Linked DNA regions of Homo sapiens: region 1 is linked to region 2. The links come from fine-mapping of genetic effects on gene expression. Tissue or cell type: aorta. Region 2 holds a variant in brackets; the other region holds the start of a gene. All regions are shown on one strand. Distances are from middle to middle.

Evidence for each region. PIP is the estimated chance that this variant, and not a neighbour inherited with it, causes the effect.
Region 1: it holds the start of TRARG1, and the variant in region 2 is fine-mapped to the expression of TRARG1 in aorta (GTEx, PIP above 0.99). The same link has a PIP of 0.9 or more in tibial artery.

Annotation. Positions count from the first base shown.
Region 1 is chr17:1,274,879-1,283,028 of GRCh38, reverse strand. TRARG1 (trafficking regulator of GLUT4 (SLC2A4) 1 (gene/pseudogene)) reads right to left here and starts at 3,367. Exons shown (of 3, transcript NM_172367.3): 1 at 2,641-3,367. The coding sequence starts at 3,027.
Region 2 is chr17:1,311,288-1,319,478 of GRCh38, reverse strand. No RefSeq gene overlaps it. Among named protein-coding and RNA genes, the nearest start is that of TRARG1, 36 kb to the right of the region's middle. The variant G/T (reference allele first, on the strand shown) is at 4,244.

The sequences.
Region 1 (8,150 bases), 36 kb after region 2:
CCTGGTATTCATCACACCTGACTCAAAAACGTAAAAGGGGCCGAGTGTGGTGGGCACTTGCCTGTAATCCCAGCACTTTGGGCGGCCGAGGTGGGAGGATCACCTGAGATCAGGAGTTTGAGACCAGCCTGACCAACATGGAGAAACCCCGTCTCTACTAAAAATACAAAAATTAGCCAGGCATGGTGGCCAGCGCCTGTAATGCCAGCTACTTGGGAGGCTGAGGCAGGAGAATTGCATGAACCTGGGAGACGGAGTTTGCAGTGAGCCAAGATCGCACCATTGCACTCCAGCCTGGGCGACAGAGCGAGGCTCCGTTTCAAATAAAACAAAACAAAACCTTTAAAGAATATAGAAACAGGCCAGGTTCAGTGGCTCACACCTGTAATCCCAGCCCTTTCGGAGGCCGAGGTGGGTGGATCACGAGGTCGGGAGTTCAAGACCAGCCTGGCCAACATGGTAAAACCCCGTCTCTACTAAAAATACAAAAATTAGCCAGGTGTGGTGGTGGGCTCCTGTAATCCCAGCTACTCAGGAGGCTGAGGCAAGAGAACTGCTTGAACCTGGGAGGCAGAGGTTGCAGTGAGCCGAGATCGCACCATTGCACTCCAGCCTGGGTGACAGAGCAAGACTCTGTCTTAAAATATATATACATATACGTACATATATACATATATACGCATATGTACATATACGTACATATATGTACATATATACGCATATGTACATATACGTACATATATGTACATATACGTGCATATATGTACATATACGTACATATACGTGCATATACGTACATATACGCACGTGTATACGTACATATACGCACGTGTACACGTACATATACGCACGTGTATACGTACATATATGCACGTGTATACGTACATATATGCGTGTATATGTACATATGTGCATTTATGTGTACACATATACGTATATATGTACATATATGTATATATGTGTATACATGTACATATGTGTACATATGTGTGTATATATGTACATATGTATATGTACATATGTGTATATCTGTATATATGTACATATATGTACACGTGTGCATATATGTACATGTATGTGCATATATGTACATGTATGTATATGTATATATAGAAACTCACTGGGGCAGGTTCTGTGGTCTCATTGCCTTGGGCTTAGGCTCTGTTTGTCAGAGGCAGGTCCTGCCCAGCCTGCACCCTGCCACCCCACCAGGAGATGGATTCCAGCAGCTGTTTTCTCCTGAGCCCTTGGGTAGCTTCCCTCCCCAAATCCAGTTTCCCCTCCTGGGGCCTTTCCCTGTAACCAAGAGGCAGGCCCTGCCCACAGCCACTGGCTGCACCCCTGGGTCCTGGCTTTACCTGCAAGCGGTCCCCAGGTACAGCAGGCATCACAGAGAGCTGCCCGGAAGGCCCCTGCCCGGCCCTGCTTCCACAGCCCATGCCAAGTCCCTCAGACTCAGGAAGGCTGCCAGTGCCCCCTGATGTCCTGAAAGGTAGTACTGGCTTTGGTGGGATGGGGAAGGCTTCCCTGCTGGGAGACTGGGCCTCCCTGAGGTAGACAGAGTGGTTTGAAGAAATAGGAGCTTTCTCAGAGGACAGCTCCTGGGGGTTCGGTGATGGTGACTCTGCAGGGAGTCACTCTTGGGAACCCCCCTCCACACCTAGTCCTCTGGCCCTGACCAGCCTGGGCCAGCAGTTTTCTACCCCCTGCCCCTGACCTCACTCTGAAATCATTGCTGAGCCCTGCTTCTCCCTCTCCCCACCCTTTCATAACTCTCGCTTCTTCCTGGACTTCAAAAGTCACTTGCCAATATCTGCTGACATTTTCTATGGAATCCTTTATAAGTAGCTCTACCCAAAGGGCTTGGGTTGGAGACAATCTAAGACAATTCATTCAAAATCCCATGGAAGTACAGACCCGGCCCCATGCCCCTTCCTGGGCATGGCAGGCCATGCCCTCTGACTCTCACATTTTTCACTTGTGACCCAGACCTCCCCTGCCCTGAAGACGAGGCTGAAGTCAGCGTAGCTGTGGAGCTGCAGAGGGCTCCGGAGGGAACTCCACGCCTCGGGAGGAGCAGTCTGCCAGCTCTCCCCGCTTTGTGCGCCCCTCGGGGGAGCCTGGCCCCGGAGCCCTCAGGGTACGGCAGGGAAGCCGCTGCGACTCTTGGAAACCGGAGCCGGCAGAGGCTGGGAGCATGTCCAGGTGGCCTGGGAGGACACATGGGCGCTGGGACCCCCGTCCGGTGCAACCTCTGCTGAGACAGCCCCACTTGGCGATGACCCTTTGGGACCGCCCGTCCCTCCTAAAACAGCAAGACCCCCAGCCTGGCTATCTTTCTGCCCCGCGGGATGTATCGCCAGGCAGCTCCCTGAGGGCCCCTCCCCAGCAGACACAGGTGCAAAGTCGAGCTCTGATGCCCAGAAGCAGAGATGAGAGAACAGAGCAGGAGCTCTTCCAGCCCCGGGGCCCCTCTCTAAGAGGAAGGAGGAGGCCAGTGAGGAAAGGAGTCTTCCCCAAGCCCCCCACTCCCAGCTCTCTCTTCTCCACACCCTGGGCAGTGTTTGGTGCCTGCCTGGGGGAAACACCTGCCGACCCCTGGGCCCAGCCCCTGCCCCTGGAACAAAGACCAGCACTTACCATGATGGAAATGATGAGGGGGATGAGGTTGAGGGGCCAGACGGGGCAGAAGCAGGCGACGACGGCCAGGATGAGGTAATCTCTGGGGGCTTCTTGGTCTTGGGCATAGGAGGTGGTGGCGATGGAGGACGCCCTCCTTGAGCTGGCCCGGGAGGGGGACCGAGGCAGTGGGGCCTCCAGGTGCCCCTCGGAGATGGCCTTGAAGGGTAGGCCCTGGCTGTTCTGCTCCAGATCCAGAGGCCCCGAGAGGGTCTTGGACAGATTCAGGGTCTTGTCATCCTTGTTCTCTGCCTTGGTGAGGAGTATCTCCATCTCCGGCAGGTCCAGGAATGCGGCGGAGCCTGGCTCCTGTGCTGAAGGAAACTCGGACTGCACCGGGTGGGCCATGGGGGCCTGGGCCTTGCGCGGCTGCAGCTCCAGGCTGGGACAAGGGGCTCTGGAGGGACCTCAGCGCGCCATTCCCCAGCCCAGACTGAGGGCCTCCAGGTCGGGGGCAGGGGCGTCCCTCAGGAGACGGAGGGCCGGCTGGGTGCTGGAAGGGTTGGGCTGAGCTTCTCAAGCCAGCTGAGTTCAGAGGCTGGGGCCTGCCTGCTGCCCCCGCGGAGCTCCCAGAAAGACGCTGGAGCCTGCAGCTTTGTTCAAGTTTGAGGCCAACTTTGCTGGTGCTGCTGAGAGCACAGATGGGCAGGGAAGCAACGGAAAGCTCAGAGAGCAGAGAGAAGAATGCGCCTCTTCCCAGGGAGGCTCAGGCTCAGTCAGGGAGGCTGTGTGTGTGTGTGTGTGTGTGTGTGTGTGTGTGTGCGTGTGCGCACACGGCCTCCCTCCCTCTCCCCCTCCTTGGTGATGCTTTTCCTTTTCAATTCCCCTCTCCCCAGAGAACCACCCTGGCAGGATTTTGCCTCTGCCCCAGCCCAGCCCAGCCCAGCCCAGCTCTGCCCAGCCCAGCCCAGCCCAGCCCAGAGGGACTTGGGCCAGCCTCCGGTTTCTGTTGCAGCTCCAGGGCCTGCTCCTCTGGGCAGGGTCTCTGGATGGGGAGAAAGACACTTTGGGCCCCACAGGGATGTGTCTTCAGCTGTCCTGGGAACTGAGCCCTCCGCTGCTTCTTCCAAAGCAAGCGTGTACTTCTTTCTTTCTGTTGGGAAATGCTGGACCTTAGGGCCCCCTATTACATCCCACCCAGACCCTGACCCCCAACCGCTGGGAGCATCCAGGCCAAAGCCTGGCTCCCGACTCCAGAAGGGAAGGGGAGATGTGAGCACCAGGGTAGCCCCTGGATCCTGCCTGGACCCTGCATGGACCAGCAGGGCCCCATGAGTAGGTTTCTACGTAGCTCACCACCAGGTGGGGAAGAGGATAAGGGGGAGTGTTGGGTCCACCTCATGCCCATCAGAACGATTCTGGGGTGCTAAAGAGCCGGTGGCAGAGAGCCCCTAGGTCAGCTGCTCCGGGCAGATGCCAGCTCGGAAGGGCCTCAGGCTGTTTGTCCTATCGGATTCTCCTCCTTTGTTCTCTCTTAGGTTTTCTCCCTCTGTCTCTGCCTTCTTCTCTATCCTCGGCATCTCTTTCTATATTCCTGACGCCCCTCCTTACATTGTTTTACAAGTGTGATCTGGAGCCGCCACGGATGTGTGTGTGTGGTTTGAAAGTGGTTGTATGAAATAGTTTAAAATCCTACGATCAGGCGGGATGCCATGGCTCATGCCCATAAACCCAGCACTTCGGGAGGCCGAGGCAGAAGGACTGCTTTAGCCCAGGAGTTTGACACCAGCCTGGGCAACATGGCAAAATCCCATCTCTACAAAAAATACAAAAAATATATGGGCGTGGTGGTACATGCCTGTAATCCCAGCTACTTGGGAGGCTGAGGGAGGAGAATCGCTTGAGCCTGGGAGGTCCAGGCTGCAGTGAGCCGAGATCCTGCCGCACAGCTCAGTGGGAGATATGGGGCTGAAAGGACACCTGGAAATGAATAAGATTTGAAAACTCAGCCGGGCACGGTGACTCATGCCTGTAATCCCAGCACTTTGGGAGGCTGAGGCAGGTGGATCACTTGAGGTCAGCAGTTCGAGACCAGCCTGGCCATCATGGCAAAACCCTGTCTCTACTAAAAATACAAAAATTAGCGTGGTGGTGGGTGCCTGTAACCACAGCTACTTTGGAGACTGAGGCAGGAGAATCACTTGAACCTGGGAAGAAGCGAACGTTGCAGTGAGCCAAGGTTGCACCACTGCACTCCAGCCTGGGTGACAGAATGAGACTCCAACTAAAAACAAACAAACAAACAAACAAATAAAAAACAATGTTTGTGGCTTTGGGAGAACTTTGCAGGTTTCATAAATTTGACTATATTAAATTAAGAATTTTGCTCAGGCTGGGCATGGTGGCTCACGCCTGTAATCCCAGCACTTTGGGAGGCCAAGGTGGGCAGATCACGAGGTCAGGAGATTGAGACCATCCTGACCAATGTGGTGAAACCCCGTCTCTACTAGAAATACAAAAATTAGCTGGGTGTGGTGGCACATGCCTGTAATCCCAGCTACTCAGGAGGCTGAGGCAGGAGAATTGCTTGAACCCGGGAGGCAGAGGTTGCAGTGAGTGGAGATCATGCCACTACACTCCAGCCTGGGTGACAGAGTGAGACTCCTCTCAAAAAAATAAAAGAGAGAGAGAGAGAGAATTGTGCTCAATAAAGGAAACCCATTGTTATTTGCAAAATGAAGACCTTGGGGAGCCGCCTCGTCCTCCTCTCAGTCCTCAGGGAGGCCAGGTGTGGGGCCTGGGAGCGAGCTGGGCTCCCCTGCTTATGAGCGTCCAGAAATACGATAATCCTGTATAACAGGAAAGCTCCTTCACAGGGTGGCTAGGTGGGTCCCTGAGACCCCTTAGGCTCCAAGCCGGTATCCAGTTGGGCAGAATGCCATGGTACAGCCTTGGAGCTGACCCCTGGGTGGAGGGACGACAGCTACCCAGCCCAATTCGGTAGCCCCTAGCCACATGTGGCTTCCGAGCCCTTGAAATGTGACTCATCCAAGTTGAGATGTAAAATACACACAAGACATCGAAAACTGGGTCCAAACACAAAAAGAATGGAAAATATCTCATTAATACTTTTTATTGATTGTATATTGAAAGGATAATATTTTGGATATATTGGGATAAATAAAACGTTATTAAAATCAACATTATTGATTTCATCTGCTTATTTTTACGTTCTAAAAATGTGCCTAGTAGAAAATTAAAAAAATTTTTTTTTGAGACAGAATCTCGCTCTGTCACCAAGCTGGAGTGCAGTGGCGCGATCTCGGCTCACTGCAACCTCCGCCTCCCAGGTTCAAGCGATTCTCCGGCCTCAGCCTCCTGAGTATCTGGGATTACAGGCATGCACCACCACGCCTGGCTAATTTTTGTATTTTTAGTAGAGATGGGGTTTTACCATGTTGGCCAGGCTGGTCCCAAACTCCTGAACTCAGGTGATTCACCCGCCTCTGCCTCCCAAAGTTCTGGGATTACAGGCATGAGCCACCGCGCCCGGCCTCAACACATGATTTTAAAAATTCATTTCATATAAAAATTGGGGTTTCAGGCTGGGCACGGTGGCTCACGAGATAGAGTCTTGCTCTGTTGCCCAGGCTGGAGTGCAGTGTTGTGATCTTGGCTCTAGGCTTGCTGCAACCTCTGCCTCCCGGGTTCAAGCGATTCTCCTACCTCAGCCTCCCGAGTAGCTGGGATTACAGGCATCCACCACCACGTCCGGCTAATTTTTGTATTTTTAGTAGAGACAGGGTTTCGCCATGTTGGCCAGGCTAGTCTTGAACTCCTGACCTCAGGTGATCTGCCCACCTCGGCCTCCCAAAGTGCAGGGATAACAGGCGTGAGCCACCGCACCCGGCTATATGTTAAATTCTTGATGGAATAAAAGGAGGAAAGAAAAAACTAAGAAGTCCCCAGAGTAGTCCCTGGCACGAGGTTGCCTGGGCGGGCTGGGGTCGGGGGTAATTAGGGACCCACGTTTGCTCCGCCCGTGTGGGATGCTGGAGTCTCAGCGCCACCTCGTGGCAGGTAGTGATGAGGGGAATGACCAGAGTGGAGGGAGCCCGAGGGAGGCAGCAGCGGATTTGGGCTCCCGGCGGTGACCCCAACCTTTGAGCACCCTACATGCGAGGGATGCTGAGAGAGGACAGGGATGTGAACAGTGCGGGGGAGTGGACCTGCCCATGAGGGGTCCTTTGGGGGGTGAGGTGGGGCGGGGAAGAAACCTCAGAAGCATAAGCAAGTTCAAGCCGAAGCCCAGGGGAAGGAGAAACATCCTCCTCATATCTCTGCCCCACAGCCCTTTCATCCTTGGCGTCTCACTGGGTGTCAGGAAACCCTACGGGGCTGACAGGGAAGGTGCAATTGAGCCAATTCCTCTTCTCACTGAAGCCTTCCTGGGCCCCGTTCAGGAGTTCTGCTCCAGGAGTGAGAGAGTAGCCTCCTGACATCTGTGTACACACACACACACACACACACTCTCACACACTCTCTCTCACACACACACTCTCACACTCTCATACACTCACCCCACACACTCTCACACACTCACACACTCACACACTCACCCCCACACACATTCACACACCCTCAGTCACCCCCACACACTCACACACACTCACACACTCACCCACACACCCCCCCCACACACACATTCACACACACTCACACACTCACACACTCGCCCCACACACATTCACACACCCTCACACTCAGTCACCCCACACACTCACACACACTCATACACTCACCCCCCACACACTCACACACTCACACACTCACCCCACACACATTCACACACCCTCACAATCACCCCCACACACTCACCCCCACACACATTCACACACCCTCACACACACACTCACACACTCACCCCCACACACATTCACACACCCTCACTCACACACACACAGTCACCCCCACACACATTCACTCACACACACTCGCACACTCATTCACACACACACACGCACGTCCTTTTGTAAAGTGTGATAAACATTGACGTAATCGTGCGCCCATCAGCAAGCACCCCAGAATTTCACATCCAGGGAGGCGGGTCCACCTGAAGGAACCCACTGGGGATGCGTCTCCTTTCTGTCCTTGCTCAAAACACATCCCTACTCCTCTTGGGAGTTTTCCTAAGGAGACTGATCTTGCACTTTTTTTTTTTTGACACCAAATCTCACTCTGTTGCCCAGGCTGGAGTGCAGTGGTGCTATCTCGGCTCACTGCAACCTCCGCCTTCTGGGTTTCAAGTGATTCTCCTGCCTCAGCCTCCTCCCAAGTAGCTGGGATTACAGGCTCCTGCCACCATGCCTGGCTAATTTTTGTTTGTTTAGTGGAGACGGGGTTTCGCCATGTTGGCTGGGCCTAATTTTTCACCTTTTAAAATAACAATGATGAAGACTCTAATGAAAATTAGGCCGGGCGCGGTGGCTCATTTCTGTAATCCCAGCACTTTGGGAGGCTGAGGCGGGCGG
Region 2 (8,191 bases):
CATTTGAGCCCAGGAACTTGAGCCTGGGAAACAGAAGGCTCTACATCTCTACAAATAATAAAAAATTAGTCAGGTGTGGTGGCATGTGCCTGTGGTCCCAGCGACTCAGAGGGCTGAGGTGGGAGGATTGCTTGAGCCCAGGAGGTCGAGGCTGCAGTGACCCGTGATCACGCCACTGCCCTCCAGCCCAAGAAACAGAGCAAGATCGTGTCTCCAAAAAAAAAAAGTATTGGCTGGGCGCGGTGGCTCACGCCTATAATCCCAGCACTTTGGGAGGCCAAAGCAGGCGGATCACTAGAGGTCAGGAGTTCAAGACCAGCCTGGCCAACATGGTGAGACCCCGTCTCTACTAAAGGTACAAAAATCAGCCAGGCGTCGTGGCGGACGGCTGTAATGCCAACTACTCGGGAGGCTGAGGCAGGGGAATCACTTGAATCTGGGGAGGAGGAGGTTGCAGTGAGCTGAGATTGCACCACTGCACTCCAGCCTGGGCGACAGAGTGGGACTCCATCTCAATAAATAAATAAATAAATAAATAAATAAATAAATAAATAAATAAGTGCTGGTGAGGATGCTGAGGCACTAGAACCCCTGTGCACCGTCGGTTGGAATGCACAATAGTGCAGTCACTATGGAAAACAGTAAGGCAAGTCCTCAAAAAGTTAAAAATAGAATTACCATGTGATCCAGCAGTTCCGCTTCTGGGTATATGCCCAGAAGAATTGAAAGCGGGATCTCAAAAAGATCTTTGCAAGCCCATGTTCACAGCAGTATTATATTTACAATAGCCAAAAGGTGGGCTGGGCGAGGCGGCTCATGCCTATAATCCCAGCACTTTGGGAGGCCGAGGCGGGCCAATCAGCTGAGGTCGGGAGTTCGAGACCAGCCTGACCAACCTGGCGAAACCCCGTCTATACTAAAAATACAAGAAATTAGCGGGGCGTGGTGGCTCATGCCTGTAATCCCAGCTACTTGGGAGGCTGAGGCAGGAGAATCACTTGACTCTGGGAGGTGGGGGTTGCAGTGAGCCTAGATCGACCCGTGGCACTCCAGCCTGGCCAAGAAAAGCGAAACTCCATTTCAATAAATAAATACATAAATAAAATAGGTTGTCATGGGTCAAATGAAATGTATGTGAAAGTAAGTGGCACATAGTAGATGTTCAATAAATGTGAGCTGAGGCCAGGCGCAGTGGCTCATGCCTGTAATCCCAGCACTTTGGGAGGCCAAGGGAGGTGGATCACCTGAGGTCAAGAGGAGTTCGAGACCAGCTTGTACAATATGGTGAAACCCTGTCTCTACTAAAAATACAAAAATTAGCTGGGTGTGGTGGTGGGCACCTGTAATCCCAGCTACTTGGGAGGCTGAGACAGGAGAATCGCTTGAACCCGGGAGGCGGAGGTTGCAGTGAGCAGTGATCGCGCCACTGCACTGCAGCCTGGGCAACAGAGTGAGAATCTGTCTCAAAAAAAAAAAAAAAAAAAAAAGAGAAAGAGCTGAATGTGAGCAAAATGGAGCTTCTGAGAGTAGAACAGCGTAGCTCGTGGTTTTCCCCCAGAAAATTAGCACTGAGGATAAGATTGACATTTTTGGTGAAAATAAAAATACAGTACTTACTGTGGATTTAATTCATCTGTGCCTAGCCTGTCTGAACTTTATTTTTTATTCTTTTAATGTTTTTATGTATTTTTTGAGACAGGGTCTTGCTCTGTCACCCAGGCTGGAGTGCAGTGGCGCAATCACGGCTCACTGCAGCCTCCAACTCCTGGACTCAAATGAATCTCCCTCCTCAGACTCCTAAGTAGCTGGGACTACGGTATGCACCACTATGCTTGGCTCATATTTTTTTGCATTTTTTTGTAGAGAAGGGATCTCCCTGGGTTCCCCAGGCTGGTCTCAAACTCTGAGGCTCAAGTGATCCTCCTGCCTCGGCCTCCCAAAGTTCTGGGATTACAGGTGTGAGCCACTGTGCCTGGCCCAGTTTATCTGAAGTGATGGAGAGATTGGTGAACTATTACTACATTTTTCTTTTTTCTTTCTTTCTTTCTTTTTTTTTTAATGGAGTTTCACTCTTTTTGCCCAGGCTGGAGTGCAGTGGGGCGATCTCGGCTCATTGCAACCTCCGCCTCCCGGGTTCCAGCGATTTTCCTGCCTCAGCCTCCTGAGTAACTGGAATTACAGGTGCCCACCACCATGCCTGGCTAATTTTATATTTTTAGTAGAGACAGGGTTTCACTATGTTGGCCAGGGTGGTCTCGAACTCCTGACCTCATGATCCACCCTTTTTGGCCTCCCAAAGTGTTGGGATTACAGGCATGAGCCACCAAGCCCGGCTTCCTATGTGTTTTCATAGGGTCTTTAAACTCCTGACTTTGAACTCCCAGGAGACCTGTGACTCACCTAATTAATCAGCTAGCCAAAGCTTTTTGTTAGATTCAATCTTGTGAAATCCATTTTCTTATCAGCACAAACTAGGGCTTTTGATAAAACAATATCCAAATGAAAAGGACTTTTAGGCCTCCCAAGATGTGCTTCACAGCCTCTTTTTAATTGAAAGCCTTTTACAAATGTAACCCATATTTCTGATTTGATCTTTTTCTAAAAGATGAAGCTTTTATTATTATATCTGGTTCCCATTCTAATTCCACTCTTACCAGCTGCAAGCTCCTGAGCAGGTTCTCGCTTCTGCACAAACCAACCCCAGGGGCCGGGCGCGGCGGCTCACGCCTGTAATCCCAGCACTTTGGGAGGCCGAGGAGGGTGGATCACTTGAGGCCAGGAGTTCGAGACCAGCCTGGCCAACATGGTGAAACCCCATCTCTACTAAAAATATAAACATTAGCCGGGCCCAGTGGTGAGTGCCTGTAATTCCAGCTACTTGGGAGGCTAAGGCAGGAGAATCACTTGAACCCGGGAGGTGGAGGTTGCAGTGAGCCAGGATCGCGCCACTGCGCTCCAGCCTGGGTGACAGAGCCAGACTCCGTCTCAAAAAAAAAAAAAAAACCCACTTAGAGAAATTGTTGTTTTCTTCTTCAGGCTTTTCGCATTTTCCAAGTTTGCTGCAATGACGTTGTATTAATTTTGCAATTGGAATGAAATTAAGAAAGGAAAAAACCCACTCCACACCCCTGGGCAAAGTCACCCAGGAGGGAGAAGGTTCACAGCCAGGCAGTGGGAATGTGGAGGCTGTGGGCTGGTGAGAGGTTTTCCCTGCCATTTCCCCCCCTTTCTGTCCTGTCGCTATTATGTTGCTCTTATAATTAAACCCGCTGTGCAGGGAGCCGCTGATCTTGGTCGCCTGGGGTGTGTGTTTACCTCCTGCCTGTTTAAGCAGCCCATGAGTGGCTCCCACGGGCCATGATGAAAACATGAGTTCCTCCAGCTCGGTTCCCCTGGGAGGGCAGCCGGGCCCTGCCTGGAACCTCGTGTTCCCCTCTCCAGGGAGCGTCTGTAGACCCTGGAATGTCTGCACGGGCTAACAACCAGAGGGAGCCAAGCCTGGGACCTCTGTACCCTGAGACCTCAGTGCCCTGGGACTTCCCAAAGACCCAACAGGTGGATGAGTTCTGGGAAGACTGTGGGGTCTGGTTTTAAGGGTGAGAGCAAATCACACTGGCCCGTTCTTAGATCCGGGTTCAATCCCATTACCTGGATTTTCCAGCATCCGTGGTGCCTGTTCACTGGATATCCTGTACAGCCACGGGCCCCCTGAGTGGCTTAGGAGGTCGGAAAGGGCCTCTGACCTCAGCAGGGAACCAGGAGGTAGACGCATCCATTTTCCCCACTGGCCAGGCTGGAGCTGGCAGCCCTGCCTCCAACTGGGGCAATGGGAGGGCAGGCTGATAGCAAAGGAGACGCTGGAGGCAAGAGCCCGACCAAAGCATCCAGCTCCAGGGCGAGGGCCAAGAGCAAGAACCAGATCCAAAGCAAAGGTCAGGAAGACGGGAGCCTGGGGAGGGCAGCGGGGGAGAGGCTTTTCTGGAGAGCTCTGTCCTGGAGGGAGAGGAAGCTTTTTTTTTTTGAGATGGAGTCTCACTCTGTCACCAGGCTGGAGTGCAATGGCGCGATCTCGGCTCACTGCAACCTCCACCTCCCGGGTTCAAGCGATCCCCCTGTCTCAGCCTCCCGAATAGCTGGGACTACAGGCGTGTGCCACCACACCCAGCTAATATTTATATTTTTAGTAGAGACGGGGTTTCACCATGTTGGCCAGGATGGTCTTGATTTCTTGACCTCATGATCC[G/T]CCCGCCTCGGCCTCTCAAAGTGCTGGGATTACAGGCGTGAGCCACCGTGCCCGGCCGGGGAGAGGGAGCTTCTCAGGGCTTCCAGCCCCTCCAGCAGCTCAGGCCGCCTGGTGTTTTGGTGTCATTTCAGTCAGGTGAGGCTGATGCATCTTAAGGAGGCAGGTTTGTGGGAGATAGAAGGGATCTGCTACTTAAAAGCCCCTCGAAGTCCAGCTACCATGCAAAGGCCACTTACTAGAGCCCTTTTATTATAAAGCGACTATAGCTGTATGTCACAAATTTCTTTTTAAAAGCCCGGAAGAAAAATGTTCAGCTCTTCACATTGATTGCTTCAGCTAATGGATTACAGGGAATCATCTGTTCTCCCTCAGACATTCCTATTTTTTCAATTAAATTATAAATGATAAAGGTAATACATCTATAAATGCTTGGTGTAAGGTTCCAACGAAACAAGGTATATGGGATAAAAACTGGAGACTGCCTTTCTCACCTCCAGTCCCATAGCGACTCCCCCAGCCATGAGCGACGGCTGGTATCAGTTTGGTGCAGAGAACTTAGATGGGGTTTCTGTTTTGTTTTAAATAAGTTTAAAGAGTGAATCTCTTCACGCCTGTATCCAGCACTTTGGGAGGCTGAGGCTGGTGGATCACGACATCAGGAGATCAGACCATCCTGGCTAACACAGTGAAACCCCGTCTCTACTAAAAATACAAAAAATTAGCCGAGCATAGTGGTGGGTGCCTGTAGTCCCAGCTATTCGGGAGGCTGAGGCAGGAGAATGGCATGAACCCGGGAGGCGGAGTTTGCAGTGAGCCAAGATCGTGCCACTGCACTCCAGCCTGGGTGACAGAGCGAGACTCCATCTCAAAAAAAAAAAAAAAAAAAAAAGAGTGAATCTCACATGGGCTGGGGAGCACAGAAAATTCTTGCGGAGGATGGTTGCCCGAGAGAGTCAGGGCAAGCATAATGTTTTGTTTTAAATAAGTTTAAAGAGTGAACCTCGGCCGGGCACGGTAGCTCATGCCTGTAATCCCAGCACTTTGGGAGGCCGAGGTGGGCAGACCATGAGGTCAGGAGTTCGAGACCATCCTGGCCAACATGGTGAAACCCCGTCTCTACTAAAAATACAAAAATTAGCCGGGCGTGGTGGAAGATGCCTGTTATCCCAGCTACTCAGGAGGCTGAGGCAGGAGAATTGCTTGAACCCGGGAGGCGGAGGTTGCAATGAGCCAAGATCGCACCACTGCACCCCAGCGTAGGCAACAGAGCTAGACTCCATCTTGGAGGAAGGAAAAAAAAAACAAAGTGAATCTGACATGGGCCAGGGAGCACAGAAAGTTCTTGCGGATGATGGTTGCCCTAGAGAGTCAGGGCAAGCGTTGCAACATCAGACAGGGGCCTCTGGGACCTGGTCCTTGCACCATAGTCTTGCTCCTGCATTCCTGGAAATGTCCCAAGAAGACCAGGCTCTCCTCTCACCCAGAAACACCTTCCCCTGACAGTCAACTGTGTACAAGGGCACCCTCTTGCCACTTCCTTGAGGAACATAAAATTCAAACCAAATTGAGAAATTTGTGGAAGAAAAGCCTCTATCCAGTGAAAAACAAGTGGGGAAACTTTGAAAACACCAGCACATACGAAGGCAGGAACGAGGGCTCATCTGCTTCTGGCGACCCAGCCTCCAATCTGCCCTTTGCACTAGGGAACATTCCCACTGCGGAGGTGAGAGCATTCCCACTGGGGAGATGAGAACATTCCCACTGGGGAGGTGAGAGCATTCCCACTGGGGAGGTGAACATTCCCACTGGGGAGGTGAGAACATTCCCACTGGGGAGGTGAGAGCATTCCCACTGGGGAGGGGAACATTCCCACTGGGGAGGGAGCATTCCCACTAGGGAGGTGAACATTCCCACTGGGGAGGTGAGAACATTCCCACTGGGGAGGTGAGAACATTCCCACTGGGGAGGTGAACATTCCCACTGGGGAGGTGAGAACATTCCCACTGGGGAGGTGAGAACATTCCCACTGGGGAGGTGAGAGCATTCCCACTGGGGAGGGGAACATTCCCACTGGGGAGGTGAGAGCATTCCCACTGGGGAGGGGAACATTCCCACTGGGGAGGTGAGAGCATTCCCACTGGAGAGGTGAGAGCATTCCCACTGGAGAGGTGAGAGCATTCCCACTGGGGAGGGAGCATTCCCACTAGGGAGGTGAACATTCCCACTGGGGAGGTGAGAGCATTCCCACTGGGGAGGGGAGAGCATTCCCACTGGCGAGGTGAGAGCATTCCCACTGGGGAGGTGAGAGCATTCCCACTGGGGAGGTGAGAGCATTCCTACTGGGGCAGAGAGCAGATTGGAGGCTGGGACTTCCCAAAGCCCCCAACAGATGGATGAGTTCTGGGAAGACTGTGGGGGTCTGGTTTTACAGGTGAGAGCAAATCACACTTGCTTATTATTAGATCCAGGTTCAATCCCATTACCCAGATTTTCCAGCATCCGTGGTGCCTCTTCACCGGATATCTCGCTACAGCCACCGGTCCTCCAAATGGCTTACCACGAAGGAAAGGGGCTCTGTCTGAGGCTTCTGGCTGAGACCTGTGTTCATCTGGCACTTTCCAAAGGCAGTTTAGCCCCCCATTCCCAGGGGGTCCCCCAGCCATCTGGTCTGGTCAGCCCCAGTGTCCCAGGCTCCCAGCCACCTGGCCCTGGGGCTTCCACGTCTAGCCCCATCCCAGGAGCACCCTCCCTCTTCCAGGCCTGTGTGGTTGCCATGGCGACCCAGTCAGCTGACCCAGTGAGGAGGCAAAGCCCAGGCTGCCTTCTTCTCCCTGGCTCAGGAGTGGGTGGACCCAGTGGGGCCTCCACAGCAAGGGCTGCTTTTGAAGCACCTTCAGAATTCACTCCCCCAGTGCCTAAACCCTGTGTTTAAATTATAGGTAGGGAGCGGGCACAGTGGCTCACGCCTGTAATCCCAGCACTTTGGGAGGCCGAGGCGGGCGGACCATCTGAGGTCAGGAGTTCAAGACCAGCCTGGACAACGTGGTGAAACCCCGTCTCTACTAAAAATACAAAAATTAGCCGGGCGTGGTGGTGCATGCCTGTAGTCCCACCTACTTGGGAGGCTGAGGCAGGAGAATCGCTCGAACCCGGGAGGCGGAGGCTATGGTGAGCCAAGATCTCGCCATTGCACTCCAGCCTGGGCAAGGGTGAAACTCTATCTCAAAACAACAACATCAAAAATTATAGGCAGGAAAAAAATGGGAGAGAGAGAAACTGGACACCTTAATGCCTCACAATGGGAGAAAGGATAAGTAAATAAATAAGTTATCATGTATATGCATTATCCAGCCGTCTTAAAAGGATGTTTACAGATAATTTTTTGTATACAGAGTTTTTAATAACGGAAATACTTGGGTTTGCAAATCTAAAACTTAGCTTTACAAGAAAATATTTCTCAAAGAAGGGGCTTGGCAACCCATCGAATTTAGGAAATACTGCATAATCCACCCTTTCTTGGAGGTACATGGTGCACGTGGGTGTATGAAGGTCTCTGAGAAATCTTACTGTCATGCTCCGTTTAGCTCGACGTAATTCACGGTTTTCCTGACTGTCTGATGACAGCGTGTAGCTCGATGTCATTCCGTTTTCCTGATCTGTCTGATGACAGCGTGTAGCTCGATGTCATTCCGTTTTCCTGATCTGTCTGATGACAGCGTGTAGCTCGATGTCATTCCGTTTTCCTGATCTGTCTGATGACAGCGTGTAGCTCGATGTCATTCCGTTTTCCTGATCTGTCTGATGACAGCGTGTAGCTCGATGTCATTCCGTTTTCCTGATCTGTCTGATGACAGCGTGTAGCTCGATGTCATTCCGTTTTCCTGATCTGTCTGATGACAGCGTGTAGCTCGATGTCATTCCGTTTTCCTGATCTGTCTGATGACAGCG